Linked DNA regions of Homo sapiens. The protein of the gene in region 2 interacts with the protein of the main gene of each other region in a pairwise test. Each region holds a gene or a part of one and is shown on either strand. Other genes may lie near its edges.

What was found.
Region 1: the proteins of CACNB4 (region 2) and MAP1A interact in a two-hybrid assay, tested with the Homo sapiens proteins (one study listed by IntAct).

What each region holds. Positions count from the first base shown.
Region 1 is NC_000015.10:43,520,604-43,527,631, reverse strand, and holds part of MAP1A (microtubule-associated protein 1A), read right to left. Parts: intron 6,992-7,028; coding exon of another isoform or gene 6,909-6,991; intron 6,661-6,908; coding exon of another isoform or gene 6,520-6,660; intron 6,309-6,519; coding exon of another isoform or gene 6,159-6,308; coding exon 1-6,158. UniProt on the Homo sapiens protein: Structural protein involved in the filamentous cross-bridging between microtubules and other skeletal elements.
Region 2 is NC_000002.12:152,096,039-152,103,882, reverse strand, and holds the start of CACNB4 (voltage-dependent L-type calcium channel subunit beta-4), read left to right. Parts: upstream 1-4,838; 5' UTR 4,839-4,871; coding exon 4,872-4,934; intron 4,935-5,119; exon of another isoform or gene 5,120-5,233; coding exon of another isoform or gene 5,234-5,242; intron 5,243-5,469; coding exon 5,470-5,553; intron 5,554-7,844. UniProt on the Homo sapiens protein: The beta subunit of voltage-dependent calcium channels contributes to the function of the calcium channel by increasing peak calcium current, shifting the voltage dependencies of activation and inactivation, modulating G protein inhibition and controlling the alpha-1 subunit membrane targeting.

The DNA of each region.
Region 1 (7,028 bases), on a different chromosome or scaffold from region 2:
ATACTTGGCCCTGGCTCTGGCCTTGGGGGTACAGTGGGTCCTGCCAGGGCTGCATAGCTGAAGGTTGGAGTGTCAGACTGGAGGCTCTTGGGTGAGATAGGAGATGAAAGCTCCTTCTCTGCAGATGTGTTTCGGCCGGCAGCTGCCTCCTTGGTTGAGAGGCATGGGGGCCAATCCCCAGCTGCTCCAAGTGGAGGCTCTCTAGTGGGGCATGCAGGGCCAAGCCCAGTAAGCATCATCTGCTCATAGATGTCTGCATACTGAAAGCTTCTCTCATCAGGATAGGGTGTGGGCTCTCTCTGCTCCGGCTCAGTCTGCTCAGGCTCCGTGGTGGCATGGCTTTTGCTGGCCTCTGGTACCTTTGAGCTGTGTGAGCTTTTGTCAGGAGCCTCAGCCCTACCTTCTTCTTCCCTTTCCCCTTCAGCCTTGCGGTAGTCCTTCCCCAGGGGGGAGTATGGCCCACCTTCCAACTCAGCTGCCCCCTCCTGCACTGCAGCCACCACACTGTCATACTCGGCTGTGCCCCAAGAGAAGGGTGCAGGAGTATGGGATTCCGGGGCAGGTGTGGGGGGACCAGGAGCTGGGGAGAGGGGTGCAGGGGGGAGGGGTCTGTCCTTGGGCACCCAGGGTGGGATGTCAGCCAGCCATGAGGGAGTAGTGGGTTCATTCTTCATGTGTGGCATGAGCTTAGGGTCTGGGATAGGACTCTCTTGTCCTGGGGCTGAAGGAACCCTTTGTCCAACCATCTCAGGTGGGGAAGCTGGAGGGGAGATGATCTCAAAGGGAGAGCGGGTCAGTTTGTCCTCTTCCTCTGGTGGCAACCCAACTGGTGATTCAGCAAGCCAGCGCTCCACCTCTAGCCCCTTCTGTGGTGAGGATTCCTGGAAATCCTTGAAGTCTGAGGCCCAGGGGCTCCGGGTTGCGTGTTCCCGCAGGGGTACTTCTTGCTCATCATCTGGGCCCTCATCTAGGAAAGTGCTTTCCCGTTCCTCAGTGTAGTGTGGGCGGGCCCCCTGGCCATCCAGCTCGTGAGGGAACCAGACCTTCCGCTCACAGCTTAGCTCCCTCCAGTATGTGTCCTGTTCCAAGGCCACATCCTCTCTGCCCCTCCAATACCTATTGTCCTGCTCAGGAGATGTGTCCTCCCATGCCGGGGCAAGCTCTTTCTGTTCTCCAGCCGGCTCCTCTCTGGTAGGAGATGTTTCTTGCCACTCCTGGACCACATCCTGCCCCCTCCAGTACTTTTCTTCCTGCTCTCTGGCCCTGCCCTCCTGCACTAGGCTCTCTTCCAGGCCCAGAGCTTTGGTCTTCTCCAGAAGAGCTTCTAACTTCTCTTCCATGGCCTTGACCTTTTCTGGGGATTTTTCCTCTAGCATCTTTGGTTTCCTGGTTTTATCCTCCTGCACTAGGCTCTCCTGCTCCTGAGTTTGGTGGTTCTCTTCCAGAGCCTGAATGTTTTGTTCCAGGGCTTCATCCTTCTGTCCCAAAGCCCAGTATTTTTGTTCTAAGGCCTGATCCTTCTTTTCTGAGACTTTATCCTTTTGTTCCTGGGCCTGGTGTTTCTGTTCAGGGGCTTTGTCTGTCTGTTCTAGGTCTCTGTCCTTCATTTCAGCGACCGTGTCCTCCGGAGCCTTATGTTCAACACTTCTGACTTTTTGATCTAAGGCTTTGTCTTTCTCTTCTGGGATCTTCTCCTTCTGTTCTAGGACCCTGTCCTTTTGTTCCAAGTCTTTATCTTTTGGTTCCAGGGCCTTGTCCTTCTGTTCCAGGGCTGTATCCTTTTGTTCTAAGGCTTTGTCTTTCTCTTCTGGAATCTTATCCTTCTGTTCCAGGGCCTTGTCTTTTTCTTCTAAGTCTTTGTCTTTTGGTTCCAGGGCCTTGTCCTTCTGTTCTAGGGCTGTGTCTTTTTGCTCTAAGTCTCTGCCCTTTTGTTCTAAAGCCTTATCCTGCTGTTTCACAGCCTCATTCTTTACATGCAGAGCCTCATCTTTCTGATAGATGGCTGTATCCTTCGGCTCTACCACCTCCTTGTGCTCCAGAGTTTTGTCTTTCTGCTGTAAAACTTCATCCTTTGGCTCAGGTTCCTTCTTCTGTTCTGAGGTTCTGTCTTTCAACCCTGGAACTTTATCTTCCCACTTTATGGCAATGTCCTCCAAGGCAGGGCCTGGCAAAGACTCAGGACTCTTGGAGAAGGAGCTATCAGGTGTCAGAATGTGTTCATCAGGGCTTGTGATCGCCCCAGGTAAGTACTTCCCATTTCCTGAAGGTGTAGAGTGAGAGAATGAGCTGGCAGGTGACTTCCTGTCAAGGCTGTCATCTGTGATGTCTGTCTGTGCAGAGTATCGAGTTGTCCCATCTGTGGGAGGTGACGCTGTGGCTGCATGGGGCTCTGGAACAGACATGGGAGCTGTGTGGTGAGAGGTATCCTCGGCCTGCATCAGATGCCCCATTTCTTCCTTCCCAAGGTTTAGTTCCCCAAACTGGAGGGTGCCAAGGCTTTCTGGAGAGAGCTGCTTAGAAGAGACATCCAGGGAGGTCTCCTTGCTGGGACTCTCTTCTGACAGAGAAAGTGACTGGGTGTCTTCTGGAGATACCTCTGGCCAACGGTCTTTGTGTAGGTACTGTTCTGTCAGGCCACAGGGAGACTTGGGGGTAGGCTCTTGGTTGGCAGTGTCTGGGGAGGGCACGCTGAGGACAGAGAGGGATTCTGCATCTTCAGGAGAGAGGCTTCGGTCAGGATATCTGAGCACCTCATCTTTCTGAGGTTTGCCAGGTTCTTGGGGTAAAGTCCTCAAACCTCCGGGAAGGGCTTCTGCTCCCAGAATTGGGCCTGTGGGCTCTCCTGCCTCCATAATCTCAAAGACTATTGCTTTATCCTGTGCTGGCAACAGTTGAATGGTACAGCCTGTAAGCCCCTCATCAATGTTGACAGGTGCTTCCTGGGCCTGGGGGCTCCTGGGAGGAGGAACTTTCTCTTCCTTCTCTAGTGTGCCCTCTTCAGGCCCTGGCTTGACTGTCTCCTCAGCAGCATCTTCTTTGCCCACACCTGGTGTGCGCTTAGTGTCTCCCCAGGAGTCTGCCTCCTGAAAGTCTTGGGGCTCAGACTTTTCTTCCACTGGGGACTGATGAAAGGGTGTGTGGGTGGCACTGGGTGGGCCAGATGGTGGAGGAGAAGCCATCTTCACTGTGCTGTCATCTGGGCTAAGGCACCGCTCCTCTGCTTCTCCAAGGGCTGGTTCTCCTGGATGTAGGGCATGCCCAGGGGCACTAAACACTGGAGTTCCATATTGACTGCAAAGTTTCTCAGACATCTCTACGTTTGCTGTCTCCTCCTCTTCCTCTTCCACAGCTCTCTCTCCAGACAAGCCTTTCCCTATGATCTCTCCTCTCTTCTCTGACTCCCCAGTCACAGAGAAGTCCTCACAGGGTGGTGATTTGAAGCCCTTGTCTTCTTCCAGTGAGGAGGTGGGTGAGATGGTACCAGCTGATGGCACATAGTCCAAGCCCTGCGTAGCTTCAGTACGGGAGGAAGGGATGCTTGTGACTGTGTCAAGCAGCAGGGAGCTCTTGCCTGTCTCCTCTGTCTGGGGAGCTGTAAGTGAGGCCACAGATTGGTCCTCAGCCACTGATGTGGCAAAGGAAGAAAGTTTGTCACACTCAGTGATTGAAGTGGCCGAGGACACATGTTCCTCTTCAGCCAAAGGGGCAGCCACTATGTTAGTGGGGTAGGTGAGTTCAGTCTCTGGCGTTCCATAGACTTTGCCAGAGGTAGCAGGAACAGCACTATCGGCAGGTTGGCTGGCTTCGAATGGGCCAGCACCTTCAGGCCCGGGCAGGTCATATGTACTTGTATGAAATCTGGGTGGAGCTGGGCGCTCCTCCGGCTCATCATGGATCTCCTCATCTGAGATGGTCTGCTCAGTCTCTGAGTAGCCAGGGATTGTCTCATCCTGGATGTAAGAGACATGCTCAGTGGCTCCTGCAGGTGTGGTCAGGCTGCTTAGGAATAACGAGGTCTCCTTCTCAGGGGCCTTGCCCTGGAGTCCCAATTCCCGACCCCCAAAAGCCTCCCGGCTCCTTGGAGTTACCTTCAAGGGTTCCTGCATATGTTTTTGGTAAAAACCCTCAGCTTTTGTCGCGTCCTCTTCCTCCTCATCTGAAGGGTGTACCTCCTCCATTTCTTCTAACTCAGCCTTTTCTATCACATCCTCCTTTACTTCAGGTTCACTTTCCTCTCTGGCTTCTGTTCTGTCTGGGAGCCTCTCTGCTTCCCTCTGCTTCTTTTCCTCCCAGGTATCTTTCTCTTCCTCTGTTTCAGCCCCAGAGTCTAGGCCTCTGTCCTTGCTGCCTTGTTCCTCAGGGACCTCTGGGACAAGCTCTTTCTCCTTCATCACATGTTCTTCTTGTCCCAGCCCTGGAACAGAGGGTGGTGTTCCCTGGATAGCTGTACTTGGGGGTCCCTCCTCTGCAGTGTCTAGAGGGAATGGCTTATCTCCTAGTCCTGTGTCCCTTTGTTCAGCCAGCAAAGCCCTCTCCTCACGCTTCATCTCCTCAAAGTCCTGTGTGAGGTCCTCTGGTGAGGATAGGACCAGCTCCCTGTGCCCACTGATGGTTGGGAGTGGTACAGTTCCCTTCTGGGCTGGGGGTGTCTGGGGCTCAGAAGACAGCTCCTTCTCCCCACGGATAGCACGGCTCCTGTCTATTTTGACTCTTCCAGGGACCTTGGCTTTATAGAGGGTCTTACGTACCTCAGGAGTAAAGGGCTTTAGGTCTGGCTTGGAAATCTTCTTGAGCTCAGGTTTGGTATCTTTCCTCTTCTCCTCCTTCTTGGCATCCTTCTTCTCCTCCTTCCTTCCTTCATCCTTCTTGAGCTCTTTCCTCTCCTTTTTGATCTCTTTTTTCTCCTTGTCTTTTTTTTCTTCCAGCTTTGATATCTTTTCTTTAAGGTGCTTTTTCCCTACCTTGTCTTTGATCAGCTTTCGCTTCTCTGCCTTCAGTGCCTCACTTGACTCTGTCTTCACCCTCTCAGGCTTGGCAGGCTTCTCTGGGGGCTTCTCAGATGACTCTTTTGCCTTCTTCTCTGTCTTGGCTAACTCCTTGGCCAGCTCTGAACGTGCCTCCTTGGCTCCCTCTTCTACCACCTCCTCCCGTTTGGCCAACTTGCTCACGGCCGTCTTGGTAGTGGCTTTGAGGCTCTCCTTGCTATCAGCCCGCTGTTTGATTTTGCTGGGCTTGAGGTTGGTAGGCACAGCCCCAGAAGCCAGGTCCTTCTGCGTGGCCACAGGGTAACGCAGGAAGTCCAGATGCCGAAGCTTTTCTAGGCCCTCCAAGATCTTGTTTTGGGGAGCATTTCCTGGAAAAAGCACACGCACAATCTTCTCAGTGGGATTGGCTGGTAGCCAGACCACCAGAGCAGTGATAGAGGTAAGGTAGGGCACGGAGATCTCAGCCTCCTTCCCATTGGGCAGCACGATGCCTGTCTTGGCTTTACTATTGCCTGCCCACTTTTGCATGAGGAACTGCATCTCCTTGCTGTCCTTGACAGGGTTGAGGACATACATGTCCAGCCGGCCCACACCCATTTTGTGGAAGAGGGTCAGTGGCTCAATGGTATTGCTGACCACACGATATAGAGGCTCAGCCTGGATGCCCAGGCGGTTTAAGTGCTGCAGAGTGAGGCAGGCCTCCTCAATGCTACGCTTGGCTTTCCGGGAGGCATCAGGAAGCCGCAGCTTCTCAGGCACGTTGAAAAAGACAACTCCAAGCTCAGGAGAGATAAGGTTCTTCACCCAGTCGCTGTAACTGCTAGAGCCCTGGGACTGCTCCTCCTCTAGCTCTGCCACTTTGCGCTGCAGTAGTCCATTGATGCCTGGCAGGTTGTCTGCCCCAATGTGTGTGAGTAGCACCGAGTCAATGCGGTCCAAGTGCCGTACCAGCTTCCAAAAACAGGACTTGCGATCAGAGCCACCATCCACCAGGATGTTGAAACCATTGACAGCAAAGAGGGCAGAGTCCCCACGACCACCTGGGAAGATGTAGCAACAAGGCTTGGAGAGCTTGAGGAAGCCCCCTGAGGTGGGGGGCTCTAGTAGGTCAAATGGGGATGGCACGTCCACAGTCTCAGAGACATACTCGGAGAACTCAGCCACGCCGTCCATGGTGGGCAGAGTGGGCTCAGGGTTTAGCCGGAGGTGCAGGGTCTCTTGGGAACTGGATAATCCCAGGTGGCTCCAATCACCTTCCCCTAAGCAGGACACGGTAAGGAAGGCCTGTATCCCAGGGTCTCTATTGCTGAGCAATTGGGAAATCTAGAAGAATAGGAGATAGAAACCTGATCAGGTCACTAGAGTTGTTTTGGTCTGACTTAGATTCAGTACCCTAATCTTCACCTCTTTCCAAGGTGGACTCTTACCTTTCTGCCAGGGCCCCCCATGGTCATGCAATATGAGACTTTCCCTTAGATCCCTCCCACAGCTCTAGTGCTACCCTTTCTCCCAGACACTCTGGCATGGAACTTACCTCGGGGTTGTGAAGGACCTGGGCAAAGTTTTCATATGAGTAGGTGCCACTCTGTAGGATGAGGTCTCCCCCAGGCTCTAAACTTTGCCCACTCAAGATTAGTAGTTTATAAGCTGATGAGCTGCTAAGAAGATGATGAACCTGGAATGGAAGAAGGGGAGTGGTCACAGATATAGGAAATCCAGGGAAAGGCAATGAATGGCCCCTCAGTACCTCAAGAACATGCTCCCAACTTATGTCCCTCATAACACCTCCAGAGTGGGCTGGAGACAATACGTCAGCTTAGATGGCAGAGAGAGGAATTCTTGGCCTAATAGTGGTAGCACTGGCAAGGGTGGGTATAGCACTTGCACCAGGCCTGTTTGGCAAGGCACAGGCCCTGGCCTTACCTCAGAGCTGATGCTGTCTGCACTGGGATTTACCAGGATGATGGTCTCTAGGATCTCACTCTGGTGGCAAAGGGTCCTCTGGCCTGAGGGAGAGATGTAGGAATTTATATTGAGAATAGG
Region 2 (7,844 bases):
TCCTAAGTGGCTGTACCATTTAGCATTACCATCAGCAATGAATGAGAGTTCTTATTGCTCCTTATCCTTACTAGCCATTGCTATTATCATTTTTATGTTTAGTCATCCTTATAGGTGTATAGTGGCATTGCATTGTTGTTTTAATCTGCATTTCCCCTAAAGTAAATGATGTTGAACATCTTGTCATGTGCCTATTTGCTATCTATGTGTCTTCTTTGGTAAAGTATCCATTAAAATATTTTGTTCATTTAAATACATTTTTTTTTTCAAATTTTAGAGATGGGTCTCCTGTGTCTCAGGCTGGAGTAGAGTAGTGAGATGATGGCTCCCAGCAGCCTCAAACTCCTGGGCTCAAGGGATCCTCCCACCTCAGCCTCTCAAATAGCTAGGATTACAGGCGCATGCCACCCACTGCGCATGGCTAATTTTTTTTTTTTTTTGTAGAGATGTAGTCCTGCTTTGTTGCTCAGAATGGTCTTCATCTCCCGGCTTCTTGGGCAATTCTCTCCTCAGCCTCCCAAAGTGCTGGGGTTACAGGCATGAGCCACAACCCCCTGCTACTTTTGTCCATTTTTTATTTGAATTGTTTATTATAGTTGAATTTTTTTTTTTTTTTTTTTTGAGACGGAGTCTCGCTCTGTCACCCAGGCAGCAGTGCAGTGACGTGATCTTGGCTCACTGCAAGCTTTGCCTTCCAGCTTCATGCCATTCTCCTGCCTCAGCCTCCCGAGTAGCTGGGACCACAGGCGCCTGCCACCATGCCCGGCTAATTTTTTGTATTTTCAGTAGAGACAGGGTTTCACCATGTTAGCCAGGATGGTTTCAATCTCCTGACCTTGTGATCCACCCGCCTCGGCCTCCCAAAGTGCTGGGATTACAAGCGTGAGCCACCGAGCCTGGCCTATTATAGTTGAGTTTTAAGAGTTATTTGTATATTTTGTTTACAAGTTCTTTGTCTTCTTATTATCTTAACAGAGTTTTTCACAGAGCAGAAATTTTTAATTTTAATTAAACCCAGAATATCAATTTTTATTTTCTTGCATCATGCTTTTGGTGGTGGTGTAAAATCTCAACACCAAACTCAGACTCATGGAGATTTTGTCTTCTGTTTTCCCCTAGAGGTTTCGTAGTTTTGCATTTACACTTAGGTCTGTAATCCATTTTGAGTTAATTTTTCTGTAAGATCTGAAGATTAAAAAAATAATAACTTTATTGACATATAATTCACATACCATACAATTCACCCACTCAAAGTATACAATTAGGCAGGGTGCAGTGGCTCACACCTGTAATCCCAGCACTTTGGGTGGCCAAGGTGGGAGGATGGCTTGAGTCCAGGAGTTCAAGACCAGCCTGGACAACACAAGGAGACTACAATTCTATAAAAAATAAAAAATTAGCTAGGCATGGTAGTGCCCACCTGTGGTCTCAGCTACTCAGAAGACTGAGGTATTGCTTGAGCCGGAGATGGAGTCTCACTGTGGTGCCCAGGCTGGAGTACAGTGACGTGTCACAGCTCACTGCAGCCTCGACCTCCTGGGCTTAAGCAATCCTCCCACCTCAGCTTCTTGGTTAGCTGGGACCACAGACACGCACCACCATGCCTGTCTAACATTTTTTTCTTTTCCTACTCATGCTTTTGGTGTCATGTCTAAGAATTTATTGCCAAATCTAAGGTCATGAAGATTTACCCTTATCTTCTAATAGTTTTATATTTTTAACTCTTTTAAGTCTTTGATTAATTTTGAGTTAATTTTTGTATATGATATAAGGCAGCAATCCCCAGCCTTTTTGGCACTAGGGATTGGTTTCATGGAAGATCAATTTTCTATGGGACGGGGATGGAGGATGGTTTGGGGATGATTCAAGCACATTACATTTATTGTGCACTTTATTTCTATTATTATTACATACTCACCATAATGTAGAATCAGTGGGAGACTTGAGCTTGTTTTCCTGTAACTAGATGGTCTCATCTGGGGGTGAGGGGAGATAGTGACAGATAATCAGGCATTAGATTCTCATAAGAAGCCCACAACCTAGATCCCGTGCATGTGCAGTTCACAATAGAGTTTGCACTCCTATGAGAATGTAATGCCACCCCTGATCTGACAAGAGGCGGAGCTCAGGCCATAATGCTCACTTGCCCCACCGCTCACTCCCTGCTGTGTGGCCCAGTTCCTAACAGGCCACAGACTGGTACTAGTCTGTGGCCTGGGGGTTGGGGATCCTTGATGTAAGGTCAGGGTTCAACATCATTTTTTCCACTCTGGTGTCAGAGGTAGGGACAATGATGCACCTCTCTCTGAGTGACATCACCATGTTAGATGCTGAATGTTTCTGGCAGAAGCACTCAAAGCAGTCCCACGTTTCCTGACTTCTTTCTCGATGAGCCAGAAGCAAAGGTGATCAAGGCCCAAGTACACTCAGTGCTGCTGTGGCCAAGGTACAGCCTCCAGGTACAACTGGGCAGAAGAAGGGAGCCCCCACCTCTGCCATACTTGCTTAGAACTTAGTCTCAACAACAGGTAGCTGCGGGGAGGATGACAAATGCTGATGTTTTGTCCCTCCTAGGAAGCTGACCCTCCAACTGGGAGCTGAAGGGTGAGGGAGCCCTGTGTTCTTGGCTGCACCAGTATAGCGTGGAGCCCTCTCTGAGTTGGAAGCATGAAAAGAGTGAGTAGGTCTTGGTTCAAATACCTCAAGCTCACTTTTCTTACTGGGTTTCAGTAGGTTTTCTTGAATAAATGTTCCTTCATTTGTTGTGCACCTTTAGGACCATTTTTAGAAATTTAAATGGTTGCTTATATATAAAACATATAATTTTCACCAGTTTTGCTTTGAGCTGGGTGTACAGGGCTTCTCATGTTGTTATGCCTCTGTGGGTTCTGTTTCAATAACTTAAAGTCAGTGAGAATGTGGACAGTGGAAAACCACACAATTCAAAGTCCAGTGCTCACATAGTAATTTAATATGCACACACGTATCAACTATGAAAATGGCTCAGAACTAAATACGGATTGGGTTGACAGTAACTAAAGTAGGGAGTCCTGCATGGTTAGACCTCCATTCCCCATAAATTCATGGAGTATCTACTATATGGAAGGTATAGGAATAGAAGATAAACCGCTAAAAATTCTGAAAATTAGGAGATTTTCACAAAAACAGAACTAACAAACTAATAAGCTAAGGCAGCCTATTCTAAGTGCCCAGAGAATACATGCTCCAGTTTTTCAGAAGCACAAGAATTATGTGGGACTGGAGTAGTCAGATAGGATTTCTGTGGAGGAAGCGTGAGCTGAGTCCCATTTAGAAGAAAGGTAGGATTCAGCCGGGTGTGTAGGTTGTTGGGAGGGCATATTCCAAGGAGGCATTCCAAAGCAGAAGAGCTCAAATGTGATTGTATTTGGAATACTTGGGTATTGATGACTAGACCTGCCTGCTTGCTGGAAGGTTTGTATAGAGAGATCAAGATGGAGAAATGAGATGGAGAGTGATCAGAAATGCAGGAGAGGCTGAGTTGTTGGACCATGGAGTTTGGACTTTATCTTAGAGAAGAGTGACTTGGGCAAGATATTTTAGGAAAATGGTTTTGCCTGTAGTGTGTAGATGGAATGAAATCTCTGCGTGTGTATGTGTGCATGTGCATACGTGCACATGCACCAGGAAGCCTGGAGGCAAGGACATTAGTTATAAGATTGTTACAGAGGTTTGGATTAAGTGAAGGGATTAGGAATGGAAAGGAAGTGTCTGGTGGATGGTAAGATATAACCAGGACCTCAATAAAGCCAAGCAATTATTAAAACAAGCATGGTAGTTGTGTCCATAAACATAAAGTCCTAGAATGCAAGCTGATTTAGCGATTTGAGATAGTAAGTATATTTTAATTTAAACGGAGTCTCTTTATTTTTGAATTTGCATATACTTTTCTTCCCTCTTCTTATTCCTCTGTCAATACCTCGCACTTATTCTTCCTTTCCGCAATCCCTCTCTTTTAATTTGATCACAAATTAATCTCTTGTATGTATTTACAGGAGGAAACCAATGGCAAACGTTGTGTATGGTTGCAAGGATGAGTTTCTCCCCCTTGAAAATATCCATTCGCATAGAAATGGGAGGCACAGTGACCAACTCTTGCTTCTTAGCAGGTCTAACATGACCTTCAAAACTCCGTAGGACATACTGGTCTTTGGCGGGGCAGCATCTCCCGTCAGACTCAGGCTGGCTGGGTTTCTCACAGCTGCCTGGATGTGTGTGACTCGCAGCTCTAAGGACAGAATTGCCAAAGCAATACAAAAACACGGACGAAAAGCAAGCCACAAAACCCCATGCCTTACACATTAGGCTGATGAGTGAAGTCGCGGAAGGTGGCTCTGCTCTTGCCCTTTTAAAATTCCAGTGCAGCAAACACACACACACACACCCGCTCGGTTCTTCCCATTCCCGCCACACTGCACCAGCTTCCGTCCCCAAGTCCTGATTCATGAACCGTGCCACCTTTGTCTCATTTTAAACTGTGCAGACTATTTTAATCTTGCCACCCCCATCCCAGATTTCCCCCTCCCTTCATCCTCTGGAAGCTCTGATGTAAAGCGCTTGCTAGGTGGGAGAGCGCTTCTCCCAATCCGCTCGGGTAGGCGAGTTTCCGAGAAGCCCCCTCCCCGGGACCCCGCCGCGAGCGCGGGGGAAGCGCCTCGGTCCCTTTAAGGTGCCGCGCTCTCCGAAGTGCGGGCAGGGAGCCTGGGCGCCGGCGCGGGTCCTGGAGCCGGGTGGGGAAGTCCTGCGCCCTCCCCCTCCGTCCGCAGCCCAGCCTCGGGGGCCAGCCCCCTCCGCCCACCGCACACGGGCTGGCCATGCGGCGGCTCTGAACGATGTCCTCCTCCTCCTACGCCAAGAACGGGACCGCGGACGGGCCGCACTCCCCCACCTCGCAGGTACCGCCCCCTCCTCCCCCTTCTCCTCTTCCTCCTCTTCCTTCCTCACACCTCCTCCGCCGCCCTAGCGCGCCCCGCCTTCGTGCCGGGCGTGCGGGGCCCCAGTCCCGGGAGTCGGCGGCCCCGCTCCCCCCACCCCTCCTCCACGTCCCTTTCTCCTCCCGCTCCTCCTCTTTCTCCTCCTTCTCTTCCTCCTCCTCCTCACCCTCCTTCGGGTCTCTGCGCTCCCGCTCCGGAGCCCGCAGCCTCCCCCAGCGGATGCCGGGGACTCGGACCCCGCACCCTGAGAGTCTTTGTTAATGGATGTGGTGGGTGCTTGCGGGCTGCTCTTCTCGAGCATCTTTTCAGCAGTCGAGGCTTGCAGTGGGTGGGTGGGGGTGGGGGCTGTATTTGGGAGTCGCGGAGGAGACTTGGGTGCGGGCTCTAGGGGACCCCAGGGAGCGGGTCCGGAGGCGGACTCCAGCCGGGGGTGGTCGCCCCGCTCTGCGCTGCGGTCCTCACCGGCTTCTCTCTGGCCCCCGTGTGTCGAGTCCAGGTGGCCCGAGGCACCACAACCCGGAGGAGCAGGTTGAAAAGATCCGATGGCAGCACCACTTCGACCAGCTTCATCCTCAGACAGGTATGAGAAGGAGGCGGGAGACCAGGATGGGGAGGAGGCCGAGCGCGCGGCGCGGGGGTCCTGGAGCCGGCCGTGGCCCACACGTGCGGGAGCTGCGGGTCAAGCCCGCGCGCGTCTCTTCCCGGCCTCGGCCGGTGCTCGGGCTCAGTCCCTCTCCCTCTAGCCTGGGCTCTTGACGTCTTCGCGTCCCGGCGTCTCCGCACCGCCCCGGGAAGTTAGTTTGTGCATGTGTGTGGACAGTTCGGTGGGGACCTGGCTTAAGTCAGGGACGTTGAATTTAAGAGCTGGAAATATGTCTGGTTGTATCTTTGGTGCGTGGAGAAATGTCTTTAATTCGTATAACTCGACCTAGAGTAACCAGACCCCTCGGGGCCGGGGACCTGGTTTGATTCGAGTTGAGATTTAGTGGTTTCTTCTGTTTTGTCCTAATTTGAATACTCTTATCTGTCTGGATCTTGGGAGAGATCGTCAAGCTCCGGTCAAAAGAAAGACACTGAGCAGAAAGTTTACTCTCACTTTAGGACCGCTTCTTGGATTCGCTTAGTTAGGGAAAGACAGCTGTATCTGGTTAAATAGGAATTAACGAAGGCCAGCACTCAGCTCCGGGTCTGGGTGCGCCTTCACTTCGTGTTTGTTTTCTTAGTGCTTGCTTTCTCCTGCGTGGTTCTAGTGCGAATTGTCTGTGCTCGGGATCTCCGGATCGCTGGTAATGCTCAATGCTTAGGTGCCTTTCACCTTGGCACAGGAAATTGGTCCTCAGTTTTCCAACTGTCCATGTGCTGTTAATGAAACCACCCCTGGCTGCTGGGTGCTAGAGAGATCATGCAATGAGTCACCTTGATCTTTCTTTGGAACAGAAATTGTCGGGGTGTGTCCTAGGTTTCGGGTGACCTAGGAAGACATTGGTCATCGCACCAAGAGGCTTTTATCCCAGGTCTTCCTGTGGGCTGCTGGAGTGACCTTGAGAAGTTCTTTTCCCTCTAGGTCACTCAGTATTGTGTAATGTGTTTTCTAACCTATGATGGCAGCTCTGGTGTTTCTTTAGTGATTATCATCAATTTAAACATATCAACGAGGAATTGATATCAAAATTGAACTCAGACCTCTCCTAAAAGGGTCTATAAAGCATATTTAGATGATATTTATTATGCAGAATTTCACTTTCTGCAGAAGCGGAAATTTTGACTACCATTTAATTCAGCGAGCACTAAGCATGTACATTATGGAAATAAATGCATTTTGGATTCCGAATTCATTCTAAAAGTGCATTCTATCCCCTTTGCAGTATTTAGATTATGTATTTGATAAGGCAAACATATTGTTTATCTTAAAAACATTTTTCTGTTATGCAACTGTTTGAGGTCTTGCTGGTGTTTATTTTGTAGGTGCCTATTTTTAGTGGTGTTTCATTGTTGCAAATTCTTGGAAATACTAATTACACAGCAGTTCTTTCCATAAGCTGTTTGACTAAAACTTTTGAGTTCATCTACATAACTGCACTAATGCTTTATTCTTCCTTCCAAGCACAAACAAAATAATATTCTAATATTCTTACTCTTTTCTCAATTTATGCCCGTAACTGATTGAGATGATGTATATATAAGTTCTTGTAAAGCGTGCTGCTATGTGCTGGCTTAAGAAATGTTAAAAGTATTGCATGCTAAATAATTTTGGGAATAATTTAAAGCAAAGTAGATTTTTTTAAATAAATATATTTCATCTATGAAATGGGAATTCATTGGTTTGATTAAATGGTCTAATTTAAATTCAGGAGTTAATTGTAATTGTATTATATACACAATCTTATTTTTCGGCACAAAAATAGTACTTAATTTTTTTCTTTTTTCAGACGGAGTCTTGCTCTGTCGCCCAGGCTGGGGTGCAGTGACGCAGTCTCTGCTTACTGCAAGCTCTGCCTCCTGGGTTCACGCCATTCTCCTGCCTCAGCCTCCCGAGTAGCTGAGACTACAGGCACCCGCCATCACGCCTGGCTAACTTTTTTGTATTTTTAGTGGAGACAGGGTTTCACCGTGTTAGCCAGGATGGTCTTTATCTCCTGACCTCGTGATCTGCCCACCTCATCCTCCCAAAGTGCTGGGATTACAGGCGTGAGCCACCATGCCCGGGCTACTTAATTTTTATGAGCACTTTACAACTCACTGAGTATACTACACATGATCTCATTCAAATGACATCATACAGACTTCTGTATTGGCTACAATAAAAATAACTGAGGGATTTACATTTCTTTGATGAGATAAGGAAAATGATTACAAATGCAGTTTAACAAT